Homo sapiens: one gene and its partners. The protein of the gene in region 2 interacts with the protein of the main gene of each other region in a pairwise test. Each region holds a gene or a part of one and is shown on either strand. Other genes may lie near its edges.

Region 1 (7,032 bases), on a different chromosome or scaffold from region 2:
AGCTTTAATTCAGTTTTTTAAAAAGCTCAAAAACTCCATTAAAAAAATTAAAAACTGAGGTATTTGCATGATCAAAACAGTATGGGTCTTTCTAATCATATGTTTAATTTTTTAATACTTTAAGTGAAATATTTAAAACTACTGAGAAAGGAGAGAGAATAGTGAGGGAAAAAAAATTTAAGTCCAGGTCATCCTGCTAGAGTAAAAATGGAAAAGATGTCACTTTAAAGTCAGTAAATACAGAGTGTACACTGGGCTCCAAAAGTCAGATGTTTTTCTCATATGCAATAAGGCAAAATGACATTTCTGTGAGATTAGCTAGATGTTTATTTTCTTTCTGGGGATAGAGTGATAAATTTGTTTCTAACTAATTGGGATTTCTCTCAACACTTCTAATGTTACACTAAGAAAAGAAGTTCCAAGGCTGAAAATAATGCTGTTAACATTAATAACTTTGGCCACTCCAACCAACATCTTCGTTTCATCTCATTATCTTTTCAAACATTCCTCCTAAAACCACAATTTTGGGTGAGCGAACTATCCTTCAACTCAGCCTTGCACACAGCAGTTGCGCAAAGCCAGGAAACCGCAAAGTGGCAGCACTCTCAAATCACAGTACAACTCAAGCCTCTCTCTACTGCCACCCTTCTCAAGCACCAACCCCCACTCCCCACCAGCCGTTCAGTCTCTTCCTATCACCCTCTACTTCAGAGAGACTGAGTCATCAGAGGGAAAGGTAACTTCCTATCCCCACTTCTACAAACTTGTCTCAATCCCAAACAGCCTTGCCCTCATCTTCAGGGACCATTCTCATCTTTATCTTTCATTTATTCATCATTTGCAAGTGACCTAGCAAGTCCATAATATGTAATCGTTTTATTCAAAGGTATACCTCTATCAAGTTATAGTGATGAGGCTGACATGCCAGTGACAGTCACGTTACAAGTGTGAGAGCCTGCCAGCTGGTGTGTCCATGTCAACGGCCTCTGCCATTCTCTATTCACCATTCTGACCTGGCATTCTTGAGATGACCAAAAACCATTTTGTTTGTGTACGTCAGAGGTGAAAACACTTAAAAAAGAGTTGAAAAGGAAATTAACTTGTGAGGAAACAAGTCTCTTTATGGGAAAGGAATTAGGGAAAAAGCTAGGATCCTTTACAAATACCCACATAGCCAAATTTTGCTACTAATTTTCACACTGAAGGGCAGTATTAAAAAACCTAGAAAAAGTTTAATCATAAGAATAGTACGCATAGTGATTTCTTGAGTCTATTACAATTTTTAATTCTATAAAAATAAGTCCTTGAATATTTGTAGTTTAGATACTATTTGAAAACGTTACCTGAAAACCTAGTTTCTGCAGACTACGGGCTAAGCGTCTGGCACCAAATTTAGCTTCTTCTTCACTACGGTTTTAAGGAAAGAAAAAGATTATCAGTTACACAGGAAATAAATGTTATACTGAGGAACATAACAAACTTTACATATGATTTTGCTGTTAAGTCTAGGAAAATGTCCTTTCCATGAGGGAAAAAGTAAAAAATAAAAACAAAAAACCCAAGTAGCATTTACCTTGTTGCTCCAGTGCAAATAATTTTTCCTGAGGACCAAATTGTAGCTGTAATTCTAGGTTTTCTAAGCTTCATTAATACTTTCTGGGGGGAAAAAAAATCTGATTACCTCATAAGCATTATTTTTCACATAAGGTTCTGTTCTATATAGTCATATTAATGTCCAAATACTACTCTCCAAGCTTATCCAAGACTGCAATAACTGCTCTCCAAATCTACCATTCTGAAATCAAGTACAATACCAAACACAAAGAACATATTAATCCAAAAAGACATTTGATTAATTAAAAATACAAGGTGTATAGAAATCTCTCACTCTATATACTTGAAATCAATGTACTCCAAGTATATAAACAATTCAACTCTCATTCCACCCCAGTCATATAACTGGAACTTGCATGGTTCTTCACACACACCAAATCTGTTCATGCTTCAGAAGCTTTGCAGTAGCTGTTGCTTTCATTTGGAATATTATCCCCTCAATATTCTCACTTCATTCAGGTCTCTTACCAGATGTCACCTCCTGAAGAGAGGCCCTCCCTAATCATTTCCCTGAAACACCCATCCCTTCATTGCTTTCTAATTCCTAATTCTGCTTTCTGCTGCTTCATGGTACCCATCACTACTTTATATTGCATCCTAGAGTTGAGATGCTTATTACATACTCAAGTTCAACATCGGCATCTTGAATAAAGGAGAAATGTTGGAGCTGGAGATGTAATTGGAAATTCATTTAAAGCTATGGGTTACAATGAAATAACTACAGAGTGTGTATAAATAGGTCAAGGACTAAGCTCCAAGAAAATATGCAAATTTAAATTTTCATTCCAACTTTTCATTAATGGAAATATTTGTTAGATGCTCATTCTATGTAAGAAAGACATAAATGCTCACTGACTAACATAAATGAATCAGATGTTTCTGCTTAAAATTTTTGTTACATTTTGTGTTCTTCATTCTCTGTCATATGCCATATTATCAAACTAGAAAGCTATTAAATCTGGGCAGACTCAAAATTCACCAAAGATCAAGATAAAATTTGAACTAAAATACATTATAAAATTTCATATACAAGTGACTGAGAAACACTTGACTGAGTTTATCCTACATTTAATTGTCTCTCACCATCACCAGCTTGTCTATCAACTCAGAATTTTCAATTAACCTGCCTTAAAAAAACTACTTCCTTTCCATATGTCATGCTGAAGTACCAAAGCAGTGTTAGGCATATTCCTCTCTAAACTTTTGAGCAGACATATTTATTACTTTTCTAAAGGAAGGATGGGATTGCTGACAAACTTGAAAATCTTTGTGAGTCACTGAAATTTTTAATTGAATTTAATTCATCTTTACTTAGTTTCTAGTACTAAGAATTAATGACGGCCAGGCACGGTGGCTCACGCCTATAATCCCAGTACTTTGGAAGGCTGAGGTGGGTGGATCACAAGGTCAAGAGATTGAGACCATCCTGGCCAACACGGTGAAACCCCGTCTCTACTAAAAATACAAAAATTAGCTGAGCGTGGTGGTGTGCACCTGTAATCCTAGCTACTTGGGAGGCTGAGACAGGAGAATTGCTTGAACCTGGGAGGCAGAGGTTGCAGTGAGCTGTGATCATGCCACTGCATTGCACTCCAGCCTGGCGGAAGAGTGAGACTCCGTCTCAAAAAAAAAAAAAAAAAAAAAAAATTAATTAATTAATGGCAATTTACATAGGTATCCTGGCATCTAATTTTTAAAGCTAAATAGAGCCTTGAGATACATTCTTAATTTTCATAACAAATGTGTAAAATACATATTCCTCTCGTCAATCTTTGGTTTATAATGACATCCAATGTCTTTTATAATGTTAATCTCAAAACACTAAGGTTTTATTATTACTTATTAATATTCAGGCTTTAAAATATTACAGGTTTAACAAAAACTAAAATTTAAGATGTCCAGGTTAAGATATAAATCATATTATTTTCAGCAGTTTGTTATGAAAGAAAACCATCTACCTTTGTTAAAGAATATGACAATTAAAATATTATAAAAATTATAATATATATTAAGGCATCATTCAAATATAATTCAAATATAATCATATTTGAATAGGTACATGTGCGAATATAAAGGTCCCTTTCTTCAGTTAAAATAAATTGAGAGAGCAATAAAATGTCTCTGTAACCAATGAGTTCTTTGCTGATTCAGGTACCAGCACTCTATGTACAAAAGCTTGCACCTCCATGAGAGGAGGGATTGCTTTTACAGGGCTCACTTCTGTATCCAGGACAACCAGCACATGGTAAGGTGCTCATAAACTATCTGTAGAATGAATACATTTTAGTATTAGTCATAGAACTATAAAATTAGGCTATGTAGTACAAATACGAAAACTCAGATACTTACTCCAACATCACGTTTATAAATTACATTTGCTCCTTCCAAAGCAATCTTCCTTAAGTTTAAATGACATCTTGTTCTAAAAACACAGACTACATTTGTAATTAGAATGTCCAATGCAACATCACTGTCTGCATCCATTGGGGTGGTTTTAAAATTTAGCTTTCCACCACGAAGATCACATCCTGAGAAATAAAACAAAATAAAGTCATTAAACTTAAATGTTGTTAATTCACTTTTCACAATTTTGAAATTGAAATGTAAAAAATGAATCTATATTATTTATTTTTCAAATGTTACTAGAATCAAATCATGTCCCTGGCCGGGCACAGTGGCTCATGTCTGTAATCCCAGCACTTTGGGAGGCCAAGGTGGTTGGATCATCTGAGGTCAGGAGTTCAAAACCAGACTGGCCAACATAGTGAAACCTGGTCTCTACTAAAAATACAAAAATTAGCCGGGCATGATGGTGCATGTCTGTAATCCCAGCTACTAGGGAGGCTGAGGTGGGAGAATCACTTGAACCTGGGAGGCGGAGGTTGCAGTGAGCCGAGATCGTACCACTGCATTCCAGCCTGTGAGACAGAGTGAGACTCTGTCAAAACAAACAAACCAAATCATGTCCTTTCTTTTCCCCACTAAAAATGTCATTTTTAAAAAAGCTAACATGACATCTAATATATTTCAAAATCTAGGCCTAACTTTCATTCCTTAAACTAAAAAGTAACTTTTACTTGACAGGAGCTTGCCAGACTTATCTCCTGCTATTCACCTCTACAAACACTACGTTCCAGGTGTACCACAGTAATGACAAATCCCCAAATGCACCACGTTCAAGGGTTGGACTCTGGTTCCAATGTCTAACCATTAGTGGCATATAACCCTTCTCATGCAACTTGCTGGTACTATAAAAAATATGACATACTTCTATTTCAAGCAGAGTAACTGACTTAAGTTTAAAGCAGCAAAAATATGAATAACATTTACTAACAGACTTTTCTCATTACTAACCATTCATTCATTATTTTCTTTCTGAACACCTATACACTGAAGATAATGGAGGGAAAAAAATGATTAAGGCAAAGTCTTTTGTCCTCAAGGAGTTTGCAAACTTGGGTGTACAGGAGGAGCTCTACCAAGTAATTTGCATAATACCATTTTTATCAAGATCAGAATCTTCCAACATGTATTTGCCGAGACTCCTATGATTTATACAAACAAACAAGCCCCAGTTTTTACTAAGTACGTGACTCATGACCCAGCTAAAAAATTCTCTCTTTGCATTTTCACACTTCAAAAAATAAACAATGGCAATTTGACTTAACTCACAAAAAGATCAGAAAATGATAAAAACATACTATAGTTGTTTTTAAAATTCCTTGCAGCCACAATGTAAAAAACTAGTATTCTTTATAATAAGGATTCAAATTATTATATAACTAAAACAGTGAAGGGGCCAAGAGTCTAAATAAAGAAGGTCTTGTTTCTCTGCCTTTAAGTTTCTGATAGAACACAGTGGCAAACCAGACCAAGACTTCTGACACCTCTATAAGACCATATGGCATTCAATTCTGTGTATCAATTGTACCTCAACTTCATTATATTTTTTCACTCTTGTATTCCCATATTCCCCTCAATCTGTGTATCTTTTTGTTTTTCTGTTATTTGTGCATGTTTGAGCTACCTCAAATAATTTTTACGTATGAGGAGTGAGGCAGGGGTGACAATAGGAACTGATGGATAGATATATAAGCAGACAGATTAAAAAGCAGAGGCACAGGGCCAGTTTATTACCATTGGTCTTAAGCACGTGCAATGTCTGACTCACCACTTAATAGCTATCAGAACTTGGGCAAGTTATGTAACCTGTGTCTCAGTGTTCTCATATTGTAACATGGAATAGACCATGCCTACCACACAGCAGTGTTGTGAAAATTATATAATGTATGAAAAGTACTTAGCATATATATCTAGGATATTGTAACAGTAAATGACAGTAATTATTGATGAAATAAGTTCAAATCAACAGGCAGAGGATTTCTTAGCACTACTTCCCATGATTACATTAGAGCCCAGTTACTGAGCCATCTGGACAGCAGCAGGTTTTCTGCTAGGCTCCTGGCTGCTTACCCCAACATCCATTCCACCTTGCCTTCATAATGATCAGAGCTCAGATGTTTAGCTGGGTACAATGTGGCAGAAATAAAATACTATAGATGTCAGCCTCCCTGGCAACAACTGGTATAGCCAACTGGCCACCTGAATATGTTCTGGTCAATGAGACATAAAATAAAATGGTTATGTATCCTCTGGGAAGTCTACTTAGAGCAACCAACTAAGCCAGCAAGGGCTCCTTTGCCTTTCTGCCCTTTTTCATTCTTGCTGTCTAGAGGTTGGATATGAGAGCTAGAGCTCAAGTAGCCAATTTTGCACCACGAGACAATGAGGATGAGGATGGTAGAACAACAAGATAGAAGCAGCCTGGCCCCTGACGCTGTGAATCTCCTTATTATCCCTGTTCTTCTTAATTCTAGACCTCATGAGTATGAGAGAAAAATCAGTTTCCCTCATGTTGGATTTCTGTGATATACAGCCAAACCTAATCCTAACTGTTGCACATCCCTTGAGGATAAGCTACCACAAGGCAACTACTGAAGAAGAAACTTCATGCGAATCAACTATCAAATTTACTATTTTACTTGTTTTTATATCAAACAGGAGAAAACAAATTGACTCAGATTTACTACTTTGAGTTCTACTCTACTCTGAATTTACTACTTTGAGTTCTGCCTGAGGGGACAACACTAAGGACAATATAAGTAAAACTAAGTCAAGAAAAAAAGGGGTAAAGAAAATCTGTGTGAATGCAAAAAAGAAGCCTTGAAATTCAAAATTGGTGATTTTTCATCATTTCAGCAACTTAAATTTTAAAAATAAGGTCATGGGAATAGTTCATAAGTTACTAAGTATTCATATTTTTATAATATGAGTAACCTGAAAAGCAGGCTCAGAAAAGATTGCTTTAATAAGAAGTTTTCAATTAAAGATGCAATATAAAAAGTCAGTACTTTTTTA
Region 2 (7,032 bases):
TGGCCAGGCTGGTCTCAAACTCCTGGCCTCAGGTGATCCACTTGTCTCGGTCTCCCAAAGTGCTGGGATTACAGGCGTCAGCCATCGCGCCTAAACTTAGTTTCCTATCACTGCTGTAATTTGCAAATTTAGTGGCAGAAAAACAATGCAGATTTGTTATCTTACAGCTCTGCAGATCAGACATCTGAAATTGGTCCCCCTGGGCTGGAATCAAGTTGTGAACAGAACCAATTTATTCTGGAGGTTCTAGGGGAGAATTCATTCCCTTCCCTTTTCCAGCTGCTGCCTGCATGTCTGGGCCCATGGACCTTCTTTCATCTTCAGAGGCAGCCATGCAGCATCTTCAAATCTCTCAGTCTGACCCTCTGGCCTTCCTCTTATAAGGACCCTTGTGATGATCTTGCCCTTCCCCACAGGTAATCCAGGACAACCTTCCCATCTCAAGATCTTTAATTTAATCACATCTGCAAAATCCCCTTCACAGCTGGGTGACGGGCAGGTGGCTGTAATCCCAGCTACTCGGGAGGCTGAGGCAGGAGGATCACTTGAGCCCAGGAGTTTGGGAACAACGTGGGCAACATAGAAAGACCCTATCTCAAATAAAAAAAAATAATAATAATAGTAATAATGATGACAATGGCCAGGCATGGTGGCTCATGCCTGTAATCCTAGCACTTTGGGAGGCCAAGGGGGTGAATCACCTGAGGTCAGGAGTTCAAGACCAGCCTGAACCAACATGGAGAAACCCCATTTCTACTAAAAATACAAAAATTAGCCGAGCCTGGTGGCAGGTGCCTGTAATCCCAGCTACTCAGGAGGCTGAGGCAGGGGAATTGCTTGAACCAGGAGGCGGAGGTTGCAGTGAGCTGAGATCGCGTCACTGCACTCCAGCCTGGGTGACAGAGCGAGACTGTCTCAGAAAAAAAAAAAATTAAAATTAAAAAAAAAGGGAAAAGAAGAAAATGGAGAATCCAGGCCGGGCACGATGGCTCATGCCTGTCATCCCAGCACTTTGGGAGGTGAAAGCAGGTGGATTGCTTGAGCTTAGGAGTTGAAGACCAGCCTGGACAACATGGCAAAATGCTGTCTCTACAAAAAATAAAAAAATAAAAAAAACTAGTGGGGCAGAGTGGCGCAGCCTATATAGTTCCAGCGACTCTGGAGGCTGAGGTGGGAAAATCATTTGAGCCCAGGAGGTCCTAGTTATAGTGAGCTAGGATCACACCACTGCACTTCAGCCTGGGTGACAGAGCAAGACCCTATTTCCAAATAAACGAATAAAAAATAATAATAGGCCGGATGCGGTGGCTCACACCTGTAATCCCAGCACTTTGGAAGGCTGAGGTGGGCGGATCATGTGGTCAGAAGATCAAGACCATCCTGGCCAACATGGTGACACCCCATCTCTACTAAAAATACAAAATTTAGCCGGGCGTGGTGGTGCGCACCTGTAGTCCCAGCTACTGGGGAGGCTGAGGCAGAAGATTCGCTTGAACCTGGAAGGCAGAGGTTACAGTGAGCTGAGATCGTGCCACTGCACTCCAGCCTGGGCGACAGAGCTAGACTCCGTTTCAAAGAATAATAATAATAGTAATAATAATAATAATAATAATAATAACAAAATGGGCATCCGGCTGAAGAAGTAACATTTGGGCTCTCAGGGCAGGGGAGGCACCCACCGCCAGCTTAGCCTGACGTTCGCGTTCCTTCTCAGTTCTGAAGCGCTGTTGCTCGGCTCTCTCTGACCGGCGCCGCTCCTGGGAAACGGAGAAGCATAAGGGGGTGCAGGGACGTACCCCCAGTCTTCCTTCCCCAGAGTAGGCTAATAAACAGATTGGAGTGTGGCCACCGACTTGGGTGAATTCGCGAAAGCCTAAGGCTCAGCTCTGTACTAGGAGGAAAACTATTATCTGCATCTCCCAAGATGCAAGGGATCCACATGGAGGGAGGAAGACCGGGGGGAACCCGGACTCTCGGCTCACAATGCGCTCCTTCAAGGCAACCAGCTCCTCTTCCTCCTTCTTCCGCTGCTCGAAATGTACATCGATGAGTGTCTGCAGCTCCAGCAGGTCTTTCTCCATGCGCTTGCGGTGGATGTCCTGCAGGACACACGGGCAGCCCGTCCTAGGAGACCCTGGAGGGGGCAGCAGCCTCCCAGCACCTCCCCCATGCAGGATGGTGAACTGAACCGTTTCCCAGGACGGTATCCAGCAGGTGGCAGCAATGCCTCGTGTTTGACACTAATCAGCTCTTCCAAGGACAGGCTTCCCAAAGACGGGAGTGGGGAGTGGGGACCGGCGCCTTTTTTTTTTTTTTTCCTCCCAGGCTGGAGTGAAATGGCGCGATCTCGGCTCACCGCCACCTCCGCCTCCCAGGTTCAAGCGATTTTCCTGCCTCAGCCTCCCGAGTAGCTGGGATTACAGACACCTGCCACCACGCCCGGCTAATTTTTGTATTTTTAGTAGAGACGGGGTTTCACCATATTAACCAGGCTGGTCTCGAACTCCTGACCTCAGGTGGGTCACCTCAGCCTCCCAAAGTGCTGGGATTACAGGCATGAGGCCCCGCGCCCGGCCGGCGCCTTTTCATGATTGACACAAAGGCCCCTTAAAGACTAGCAACTGCGCCTGCGGAGGGGTCTCTTGTCACTTACATCGAAGTCAACGCGCTCCCCTTCTGGGATCTTTGGCGGGATCAAAGGAGGCACCACGGGGCGGCTGAGTGGACAGAAACACAGAGACCATGAGTGGCCCGACCTCCCTGAGCCACCTCCCACCTCCGGGATGTGCCGTCCAGTGAGGTAGCCGCCAGCCCCGGGAGGCTCCTGAACGTGGAGGGTCCCAGCTGAGGCGGGCTGTCAGTGAAACACACAAAAGAAGGTAAAATACCTCACTACTCATGTTTTTTTGGTTGTTGTTGGTTTTGTTTTGTTTTTTTGACGGAGTCTTGCTCTGTCACCCAGGCTGGAGTGCGGTGGCGCCACCTCGGCTCACTGCAAGCTCCGCCTCCTGGGTTCACGCCATTCTCCTGCCTCAGCCTCCCGAGTAGCTGGGACTACAGGCGCCCACCACCAAGCCTGGCTAATTTTTCTGTATTTTTAGTAGAGACGGGGCTTCACTGTGTTAGCCAGGATGGTCTCGATCTCCTGACCTCGTGATCCGCCCGCCTCGGCCTCCCAAAGTGCTGGGATCACAGGTGTGAGCCACCGCGCCCGGCACTAATCATGTTTTATACTGATTACATGTTGAAATGATAAAACATTATATAACAGATTAAAAAAACTGTGCTATGAAAATTAATTTTTCCTATATTGTTGTACTTTAAAAAATATGCCTAGTAAGAATTTTTTTTTTTTTTTTGAGACAGAGCCTCACTCTGTCACCCAGGCTGGAATGCAGTGGCGCCATCTCTGCTCACCACAACAACCTCCACCTCCCAGATTCAAGCGATTCTCCTGCCTCAGCTTCCCGAGTAGTTGGGATTACAGGCGCCTGCCACCACGCCTGGGTAATTTTTGTATTTTTAGTAGAGACGGGGTTTCACCATGCCGGCCAAGCTGGTCTTGAACTCCCGACCTCAGGCGATCTGCCTGCCTCAGCCTCCCAAAGTGCTGGGATTACAGGCAGGAGCCCCTGCGCCCAGCCATTTTTAAATTTTTTGTAGAGATGGCGTTTCACAGCCTGGGCGCGGTGGCTCACGCCTGTAATCCTAGCACTTTGGGAGGCCAAGGTGGGCGAATCACTTGAGGTCAGGAGTTCAAAACCAGCTTGGGCATCATGGTGAAACCCCATCTCTACTAGAAATTAAAAAAAAAAATTAGCTGGGCATGGTGGTACGTGCCTGTAATCCCTGCTACTCAGGAGGCTGAGGCAGGAGAATCGCTTGAACCCCGGAGGCAGAGATTGCAGTGAGCCGAGATCGTGCCATCGCACTCCAGCCTGGGTGACAGAGGGAGACTCTATCTCAAAAAAAAAAAAAAAGAGATGGCGTTTCACTATGTTGTCCAGGGTGGTCTTGAACTTCTGAGCTCAAGTGATCCTCCCGCCTCAGCCTCCCAGAGTGCTGGGACTATAGGCGTGAGCCACTGCGCCCAGCCTTTAGTAAGAAATTGTAAGTGACGTGTGTGGCTTGCCATCTATTTCTATTGGGTGGTGCCGCTCTGAGGCTCAGCCCTCAGCCTGCTCTGATTTCCTGCCACTTCCTTGGAATTCTCTTTTCTGGGTTTCTGAGACAGTGAAGAGCGATTCCAAGATGAAGCAGACAGGACTTAGGGGATGCTGGGCAAGGGGAGGGAAGAGGTGAGGACAATCCCCAAGGGTCTCTGGGCCAGGGGGCCAAGTGTACAGCAGGGCCGTCATCTCCATCTTGGAAAAGTCGATAAGCTCCATCAGGGCGTCATGTGTGGGAATAAAATATGGCTTACCATATTGTACAGGAATGAATACCGGCTTGCCTCCCACCCCTCTGGCTGTTCCATCCCTATCTCCTGCCCCGACAGCCCCGTGAGCTGCCAGTGAGCTTTCCTTTTCCCTTTTCTCATCATCAATGCCATTCACTCCAATGACTTCAGGTATCATCAACTGCTGAGGACTCGCCAACTGTCTCTGGTCCAGACTCTCTCCTAAGCCCCAGACTCAAGCTAACAGGTATCTCCTGAACTTTTCCCACCTTCCCACACATGACGTCCTGATGGAGCTCACCAACTTCTCTGAGAAGGAGATGGCAGCCCCACTGTCCACTTTGTTCCCCAGCCCAGAGACCCTTCGGGGTTGTCCCCATTGCTTCCCTCCCCTTGCCCAACAATCCCCAAGTCCTGTCCCTTTGCCTTGGAATCCCTCTCAGTCCATTCCCCCACCCCACCCCACCCCCTTTTTTTTTTTTTGAGATGGAGTTTCACTCTTGTTGCCCAGGCTGCCGTGCAATGACACGATCTTGACTCACTGCAACCTCTGCCTCCCGGTTCAAGCGATTCTCCTGCCTCAGCCTCCCAAATAGCTAGGATTACAGGTGCCCACCACAATACCTGGCTAATTCTTTTGTATTTTTAGTAGAGACAGAGTTTCACCATGTTGACCGGGCTGGTCTCAAACTCCTGACCTTAGGTAATCCGCCCCCCTCAGCCTCCCAAAGTGCTGGAATTACAGGCATGAACCACTGCGCCCGGCCCCATTCCCTTATTTTTATTTATGTTTTAGAGACAGGGTCTTGCTCTGTTGCCCAGGCTGGAGTACAGTGGTGTAATCATAGCTCACTGCAGCCTCCAAATCCTGGGTTCGAACAATCCTCCTTCCTCAGCCTCCTGAGTAGCTGGAATCACAGGTGTGTGCCACTGTGCCCGGCTAATTTTTTAAAATTTTTTGTAGAGATGTGGGGGATCTCATTTTGTTACTTAGGCTGATCTTGAACTCCTATCCTCAAGTGATCCTCCCACCTGCCGCTGCGCAGGCAGAGGGCACAGTGTGTGCAAAGGCTCAGGGGTATGAAAGCACAGGCATGGCTAGAGAACCATGAAACGCTGTGTGTCTGTCAGTGGGGAAGGCAGATGCCGGAAAGGTCCGCTGGAGCCAGATGGGGAAGGCTTTGAATGCAGGCTAGTTGCTTTGACTGCGTCTTAAGAGTAGTGGGGAGTTGAGGAAAGATTCTGAGCAGAGGAGGGGCAGGGTTAGCTCTGGTGTTAGAAAAGTCTCTCTCGAGTCATGGAGGAGGATGAGCCACAAGTTGTAGGCAGGGAGGCCAGAGAGGAGGCTGGGGTGATGGTAAAGGCGCGAGGGGAAGAGGGACCACTGGGTGGAAAGAAGGAAACAGACTGGCTGGGCATGGTGGCTTGCGCCTGTAATCCCAGCACTTTGGGAGGCCAAGGTGGGAGAACTGCTTGAGGATAGGAGTTCAAGACCAGCCTAAGCAACATAGCAAGACCTCATCTCTACAAAAAGAAAAAAAAAAAAAAAAACCAGGTGTGGTGGCACATGCCTGTGGTCCCAGCTACTCAGGAGGCTGAGATGGGAGGATTGCTTGAGCCCAAGATGTTGAGGCAGTGGGCCAGGATTGGGTCACTGCACTCTAGCCTGGGTAACAGGGTGGAGACTATGACCACGATGAAGAAGAAGGGGAAGGAGAAGGAGAAGGGGAAGGGGAAGAAGAGGAAGTGGAGGAGGAGGAGGGAGGAGGAGGGAGAGGAGGGAGGAGGGAAAGGGGGAGGGAGGAGGAGGAGGAGGAGAAATGTCGACTGCTGTTTCAATTTCCTCCCTCCATCTCTGCCTTTCTCACACCTTGTCTCTGGGGGTAGAGGGAATATTTAGGAAGATGTATGACTGGGGCCCCCCACCCTGTAGGATCTCACCTTGGTTTGGGGCGTTCCTCTTCTGTTGGTGGTGGGGGATAAAAAGAGATAATTAGCAAGAGTTTAGAGGAGAGGGGCTAGGCCTGACACACCCTGGGGAGGGACCCCCCAAGCCTCGGCCCCCAGGACCCCAGGGAAGGACTCTGGAGTCCAGTTCTGGAGGAGGGGGGATGGGGAGAAGAAAAGAGGGAAGGAAAGTCAGGGTGGCTGTAAAGGAGGAAGAGGGTCACACGCATCAGATATACATTCAGAACTGGTGTGGGGACCCCCCACCCCCACTGTCTGCACACCCAGGAGTGCAAACCCCCAGACCTTTCTCTATTTATATGCCCAGAGCTCCTGCTCTCCTCCATTAGGACCCAGCAGTGCAGGGGGTCCCAACCTCTGTCTTCATTCAGTGACCCCAGCGCTCTCTCCCCAGCTCGCCCCCTGCCCACCGCCCCACCGCCCCCCCGCCCCCGGCCCGACCTTGGAGACCCTGACTCCCAGCGCTCGCCTCCTCTGCAATCCTAAATTCCAAGCCCCAACCTTTGAATGTATATGGGGGAGAAAATAACAGACAAGGTTGGAGGCGAAGATAAGGGGGGATGGGGTGGTGCTTCTCCGCAAACATCCAACCCTTCTGTAAAGATTCCTCCAGACTGGGGAAGAAGGCTTGGGTGTCGGTCCCTTTAAGAAGGAAGGGAAAGGGT
Region 3 (7,032 bases), on a different chromosome or scaffold from region 2:
GTCACAAAGAGCCAGTCAGGAGAAGAGCATCTGGGAGGCACTAGTACAGGGGACACACAGGTGTCTGTGACACTCAGGGCGGGCAGACAGGTCATCACCCTGCATTCTGCATGCCCACGCATACACACCATGCTCACCCCTTCTGATGAACAGGCACAAGCGTTCACACACACGCTCCTCCCCCAGGGGCTCCCAGGTTGGAACACCTCCCCTGACTGCCAGGCAAAGCCATACCTCTCTCCTGAACCCAGGGCAAAGGGCCAGGCTCACCCAGCCTGTGCCAACCAGTGAGAGAGGCCAATGGTTGGCACTGGAGCCAGTTGGGGTGCTGAGTTGAGGCCAGAGATGGGCAGCCTGTTCAGATCCCTGGGCGTTTGCCTCTGGCCAGGAGACCAAAGCCCTGTCCACATCCAATTTCCTCAGACTGGGAGTCTGGGGACCTACTTCCTAGCTCCAGTTAGGTTTGTGACCTTGAGCAAGTCACCCTCCCTCTCTGGTCCTTCGGACATTGACCGCAGTGCTCTGGGCCAGTGCTATGGGGTTTTCGAGGCTCACCCTGCTCAGCCTTCGTCTCAGGGGACCCACAAGCCAGCCTAGAAGTGTGTCTTGGAAGGAAGAGAAAACCCTTGCCCGTCACCTTTAATGAAAGACCCACAGGCAGACAAGCTTTGGGGATGTCTGAGGAAAGAGACCTGATGGGGGTCAGGAGCAGAAGCTGCCATTAGCACTGGTCCCAGCGAACTGTCCTGGGCTTCCGCAGCTTGGTCACCCACCTGGAACGAAGCTAACCCCCCCGCCCCCGGCTGCCCAGCCCAGAGACTTGTGGGGAGTATGACTCACTTCGCGGGGGGCCATTGTGGCTAATGTTTAACTCTGCCCCTCCTTCAGCAAGGCACTTTAGCCCCAGCAGCCCTTAGCGCTGGGCCCTGCCCTGATCATGCCTGCTGCTGAGTGGGCTCAGACACACAGCTGAGCTTGGCCTCCTTGCGCCGTGGGGACCGGGCACCCTGTGGGGAAAGGTGGGAGCAACAGCTGGTCTCCCAAGGGCTCTGGGACAGGCAAGAGTGTAGCAGGTGGCATCCTGCCCTGGTCATTCCTACCAAGCAGAGAGGAGCACCAGGCCCATCTCCACCAGCTGCAGAGAGAGGGGGTGCCCACCCAGCTATTGTGTGCTGATTAGTAATAGATATCCCCCAAGTAGCACCCTATCCCTCCACTCTCAGCCAGGGCCCCATGTTGGAGGAAGGCCTCACCTTAGCCCATCTGTATGTCACCTGCATCTCCTTTGAATGTTTCCCCTTTGGTGCGGGTGTGTGGGGACTCCCCAGGTGCATATGCAGGACCCTCGACCCCCAGCTGTGTCCTTCCAAGAAAGTTGGGCTCTGTTAAGGCCAGTCTGATCTCAGAAAAGGGCAACCCCAAGGCAGAGTGACCTGAGATCTAGTCTCCAGTCTGCAGCTAGCAAACCCTGTAACTTAGAGTGAGCTACTTGAACTCTCCAGGCCTCCATTTCCTCATCTGTAAATTTGAGCTAACAAATGTACCATTTTTGTGAGAATGCAATGATATAACTCAGATAAAGCATTTAACATCACATATTACTATTATTGAAATGCTGTTATTAAAATAGTCGATAAGAGTATGGATTCTAACAGACTTCTTGGGTTGAATCCTGGGACCACCACTTATTAGCTGTGTGATCATGAAAAGTCCCTAACCTCTCTGTGCCTCAGTTTTCCCCACTGTACCATGAGAATAGTAGCTGTACCTTTCTCCTAGGGTTGTTGTGAAAGTTAAATAAATTAAGGTGTACATGCTGGTGCCTGACGCATAAGTGTGCTACATGTGTGAGCTGTTACTCAGTGGCAGGCCCCAGCTCCCAGCTCTACTGGTGTTGTCTCCATGGTGAGAGAAGACTGGAGTAGAATCAGGGCTCTCCAGAGGCCAGGCCCCCAGCCCAGGCCCCATTCTTGGCTACAACAGCCCCTTCCATAGATCCCTCTCCCACCCCCAAGCTCTCCTTCCCCTTGTCCACAGGGCCTCTCAATCCTTGCGCTCCAGATATGTCTATGCCTATATTCGCCCTTGCTCCATCCTCACAGGAGATGAATTAGGTCTGTTGCTGCCTGGAAGCAGAAGGAGGAACCCGATGACCTCCAGGAACCCTCTGGTTGGCTCTTCTGCCCCTCCTAGAGGGCCACTGGCTTAGGTGTGTTGAGTGGGCCCCACCTCCTCCTCCCATGGGTCTTCTGCACCCACGTGTTTGCTTTGAGTCAGGCCCAGAGCAGGTCTCCTGCCTTTACATGACTGGGTGGATACCCCAATCTGCCAGGGCCCCAGGTTAATAGTTGACTGCAAAACTGGGATTTGACTCTGGAACTTGGGGCCAGGCTCTAGGGAAGAGCTGGAAAGAGGTGAAACAAGGAGATCGCTTTGGATCCAGGCCAACCGGAGGAGCCCTGTGAGGCGGGGAAGAGTGGGTTTCTGTGGCTGCCTGGGCATGAAGGCATGAAGCCTAACCCCATCCTCTGTGGCCTGGACCAGCCCTGTCAGGTTCTCCAACTTCGTGCATTGAGACTGGGTGTGTCCGTGCCTACGGGTTTCTGTGTGTGATTGGGGTTGTGCTTTTTGCACACATCTGCCTCTCTGCCCACTGACCTATTTATAGCAAGAACCCTGGGCAGAGTGCTGCTTCCCCTAAGGTAGCCCAAGTTGCTGGTTCCCACTGCCATGCTTTCTGAAAGGGGCTGGCAGCCCAGCAGCCCAGAGAGCCAGACCATGCCCTGGGGAGCAGCTGGCACTGCACTTTGTACCAATTTCTGGCACTTATGGAAGATAATACATGGGATTCGAAGGTAGAATGGGGACTCAGTAGGGTGGGTAGAAGGGTTGCTGCTCTGATAACTCAGCCCCTCCTAGGGCCAGTGCTAGGGTGGTCGAAAAGCCAAGGGACCCCAGGTCTGGGAACAGCCACTTCCCTTGCAGGCTTAGCTCAGAAGTCACCATCCCACTGCCCTGAAAAGTCAGAACTTGACCGGATGTGGTCGCTCACACCTGTAATCCCAGAACTTTGGGAGGCCGAGGTGGGCAGATTACGAGGTCAGGAGTTCGAGACCAGCCTGACCAACATGGTGAAACCCTGTCTCTACTAAAAATACAAAAATTAGCGGGGTGTGGTGGCACGCACCTGTAATCCCAGCTACTCAGGAGGTTGAAGCAGGAGAATCGCTTGAACCTGGGAGGCGGAGGTTGCAGTGAGTCGAGATCGCGTCACTGCACTCCAGCCTGGGTGACACAGCGAGACTCCATCTCAAAAAAAAAAAAAAAAGGAAAAAGAAAAGTCAGAACTTTGGTCTCTGCTTCACAGGAGCCACTCTAGTGAGTATGTTGGGGGAAGAGAGGCTGCCCCAGACCCCCCTTCCACCCCAGAAGGCCCTATGCTCTCACCAGGCTTTGGACCCAGGAGGTAGTGGGATGGAGAAAGGACCTGATCCAGAGGACAGATAAGTGGCCACCCCATCTCCGGGAAAGAATCAGTCCTGGGGGATAGGACCAGTGCAGGAGTGTGAAGGGGAAACAATTGGGAGGAGGGTGGGTGAACGTGGGGAGAGCAGAGGCCGGAGGGACAGGAGAGCCCAGGAGAGAAGGAAGGCGTCACCTGGTGGCCAGGCCTGGAACTGCAAGTATCTCTTCTGTGAGGCCTCCTGCCCTGTGCAGCAGGACTAGGTGAGGGATTGAAAGTGCCCTGACCTCTCAACCCAGCACACATCAGGGAGAGTTAATCCAGGTTTGCAGAGGAAGGAGAGTATGAAAGCCGGCAGGAGAAGCGGCTCTTAATGGAGAGGCCTCTTCTGATGGCCAGAGTCAGGGGCAGGACGGGGTCATTTCTCGGAGGTCAGGGCTCTGGTGAGCTGAGCATCCTGGGTGGTGAGTGTGTGCAGTGTGACGTCACAGGGACTGGGCAGAAGGGGCCCCAGGGGACCCTGGCAAGCAGCCACCAATTCCTTAGCCCTCCCTTCAGATCCCGAGCTCCGGACTGCAGACAGGGTGACTGGAGCCCAGCACAGCCCTCTCTTCCCAAGCCCCAAGTCTTCCCTTTCTTCTCAGGGCTCACAGTCAGAGCTGCAGAAATGACCAGGAAACTGGGTTTTTAATGAAGAAGGTGTGATGCCTGTGGACACTGTACACACATAGAAGGAGTGTGGCACAGGGCTGGAGGAAAGGTGTTCTCACCCCCTCCTCCTCCTCCACTTGTTACACCACGGGGTGGCTGAGAAGCCCCAGGTGCCTCATGGGTGGATAGAAGCCCACCCTGCCAGGGTGAGGTCTTCAGACACTCGCGTTTTTCCTGCCTCTTGGGTATCTGTTTAATCCCAGTTCCAGAGGAGGGCATGCAGGCTGGAGGGAAGAAGTGGGGGAGAGGTGGGAAGGGATGCTCCAGACACAGGCAGAGAGGTGAGTGAGCTGGGTTGGAGAAGAAGCATGAAGCAGGAGCTCAGAGCGCAGCACAGCAAGCTGGCCTGTAGGGACAAAGAGGCAAAGCCATCAGTTCCCGGGGACCTGTGTGCAGCGCATGAATCCCTGACTTACCTACAGCACATGCAGTCCCCAGGGCTTCTCAGCCCTAGCGCACCCCGGACTGGATCTTCATTCATAAGGGCTCCTACAAAACCTCAGCTTCTCGGCCCTCGGGCACAGTTGCTCCCCTTTTGGGACCCCTCACACCGCTCCTCCACACTGCGGCCCTCAGCTCTTACCTAGCCTTGCCATGCTACTCTGTGGCTGCTTAATTCCCACCTCCATGCTTCTGTTGCACCATCAGCCCTTCAACATGCCCTTCCCTTTATCAGCTAACACTCGCTCGTCGCATCCTCAGAGAGCTCCTCCTCTCCAGAAAGCCTGCTCTGACCAGTGCTGTCTGGTGGATGCCTGCCCTATTGCACATTCTCTCAGCACTTCCGTAGAGGGTTTTACGTGGCCTGATTTCCTTGCTTTGCCCAGTTTCTCCAGCTATTTCCTCAGATGGTGGGAAGTCTTAGCTTCTGTGAGTGGTAGCTCCTTGGGAACAGGTACTGTGAGTGCTGGGTACTTCGCAGGGAGCACAAATAAAGGACATCACCAGGAGGTATTTAAAAGTGCATAGATTCTCAGAAAGTCAGAGATGAAGGGATCCCAGGGACCCTCTAACCTAGTGGTTCTCAAACTCTCATGTGCATCAGAATCACCTAGAAGGCTGGCCTCACCCCAGAGTTTCCAATTTAGTGGATCTGGGGTGGGGGCTGATCATTTGCATCCCAGGTGATGTAGACGCTGCTGGTCCCAGGACCACACTTGGAGAACCACTGATTTGATACAGCCCCCAATTTCATAGATAATGGGAACAAAAAGGGCCGCCAAACAGAAATGACATGCCCAAGTATCATGGTGCTGGAGCCAGGACTGAGCCCAGGAGAGCCGACTCAAATCAGTCTCATCGGTGCCTTAGTCCGTGCATCCGTGCACCACACTAAGTACAACCCGCCTGCCCATTGTGGACTCCCTCATTATCCTCTAGACTCTGATGGACCCCAGAGAAGGGAGCTGGTCTCTAGGTACCTCTATTGTGAGGTCGGAGACTTGGCGGCATCAAACATCTTCTTCCGGCCTTCCATGCCAGACATGGCCTCCACGTTCTTCCTCCAGTCACCCACCTCCACAGGCCGCTCCTGTAGACAAGTGGCACACACATCAGGGACTTACCAGGCTGGACGGCCCCCCAGCTCAAGAGAAGCTGGGTGATAGGAAACCAGTCTCCTCGGATGATAAGAAATCCTGATGCCCCTCCCCAGCTGGTAAGGTCCTAGGACTCAGCCAGGCAGGTGGACACAGGCCAAGCCGAGGCCCCACAGGAAAAAGGAAGCTGTGTGGCTTGGGAGCACTGGGTGAAAGTGGCAGCTATGGGGCTAGTTCCCACCTCAGTGCACCTCAGCAAAACCTCCTCCAAGGCTCCATGCCACCCTCCTGGTCTGGCACTCAGCAGGCTCAAGGCCACCTCTTCCAAGAAGTCTTCCCCTGCAAATGCGGCTGCTTTTCCATTTCCTCAGTATATTGTCTGGCTTATCTCTTCTCCTCTGAAGCTTCTTGGGCCAGAGACTGTTCCTTCATCCCTGTTCCTTACAGAGCCTATCAATTTGGGGCACATATACTGTGAATTCAACCAACTTTGAATAATTTGTTGCTGGGTGGTTGAACTCAGTTCTCTAATGTCTATGCTCGTGTGTGGCTATAACCAAGATGAGCTGCTGTCTCCTTTCCCTGTGGTGACCAGGCAGTCATCTCCACCATTACCCTAAATCTCCACATTATCTTCACACTGGGAACAAGATTTTTACTTCATTTCTCCGTCTGGGGTCTAGCTTTCTTTATGTCCTAGTTTCTTCGTCAGACTGGGAACAGCCTGAAGGAAGGGAGCAAATCTTCTTTCTTTCTTCCCACACTGGTCTCCCAAAGCATTCTAGAATGTTCTGTCTGTCAAGCTGACTGGTCTCCAACAGGAGCTCCTGGGCCAGCCTGAGGCCATGTGAGGGGTTGACAAGGGGAAAGCTGGTAGGGCAGAGGGTGGAATGTTCTGAGGAAAGGGACCTCACCTTCTCTGTGTCTTCCTTCTTCACAGACTTGAGGTTGGCCCGCAGATCCATGGACACCTTGTGCTTGGAGCCCAGCAGGGCCCGGAGCATGGCGTCAGCCGAGACACGGACTCGACGCAGGGGCGGGCGCTTGAACTTCCCACGGAGGTCCATCACCTTCAGCTTCAGGTCCTTAATCTGTAGGTGAGAAGCGCCCGGGGCTCACTGGAGAGGCAGCTAGCCACAGGACACCCTTCCTGAGGACCTCAGACTGCTAGGGTTCCAGCCAGAGATACACCTTAAATTGTCCACCCTTGAAGCCAGACCTATCAGCAGTCACCAACCTTTTTGTCACCAGGGACCGGTTTTGTGGAAGACACTTTTTCCACGGAGAGGTGGTGGGGTGGTTTCAGGATGAAACTGTTCC

What was found.
Region 1: the proteins of TNNT1 (region 2) and TBPL1 interact in binary tests that used the Homo sapiens proteins (3 or more experiments, as listed by UniProt).
Region 3: the proteins of TNNT1 (region 2) and TNNI1 interact in binary tests that used the Homo sapiens proteins (3 or more experiments, as listed by UniProt).

The regions. Positions count from the first base shown.
Region 1 is NC_000006.12:133,977,192-133,984,223, reverse strand, and holds part of TBPL1 (TATA box-binding protein-like 1), read right to left. Parts: intron 4,143-7,032; coding exon of another isoform or gene 4,136-4,142; 5' UTR 4,099-4,135; coding exon 3,964-4,098; intron 1,657-3,963; coding exon 1,574-1,656; intron 1,408-1,573; coding exon 1,344-1,407; intron 1-1,343. Other genes in the region: umcharacterized LOC128092253, read right to left, coding at 4,136-4,142. UniProt on the Homo sapiens protein: Part of a specialized transcription system that mediates the transcription of most ribosomal proteins through the 5'-TCT-3' motif which is a core promoter element at these genes. Seems to also mediate the transcription of NF1. Does not bind the TATA box.
Region 2 is NC_000019.10:55,139,204-55,146,235, forward strand, and holds part of TNNT1 (troponin T, slow skeletal muscle), read right to left. Parts: intron 6,363-7,032; coding exon 6,341-6,362; intron 2,718-6,340; coding exon 2,654-2,717; intron 2,100-2,653; coding exon 1,983-2,099; intron 1,758-1,982; coding exon 1,680-1,757; intron 1-1,679. UniProt on the Homo sapiens protein: Troponin T is the tropomyosin-binding subunit of troponin, the thin filament regulatory complex which confers calcium-sensitivity to striated muscle actomyosin ATPase activity.
Region 3 is NC_000001.11:201,404,731-201,411,762, forward strand, and holds part of TNNI1 (troponin I, slow skeletal muscle), read right to left. Parts: intron 6,804-7,032; coding exon 6,627-6,803; intron 5,706-6,626; coding exon 5,598-5,705; 3' UTR 5,596-5,597; intron 4,521-5,595; 3' UTR 1-4,520. UniProt on the Homo sapiens protein: Troponin I is the inhibitory subunit of troponin, the thin filament regulatory complex which confers calcium-sensitivity to striated muscle actomyosin ATPase activity.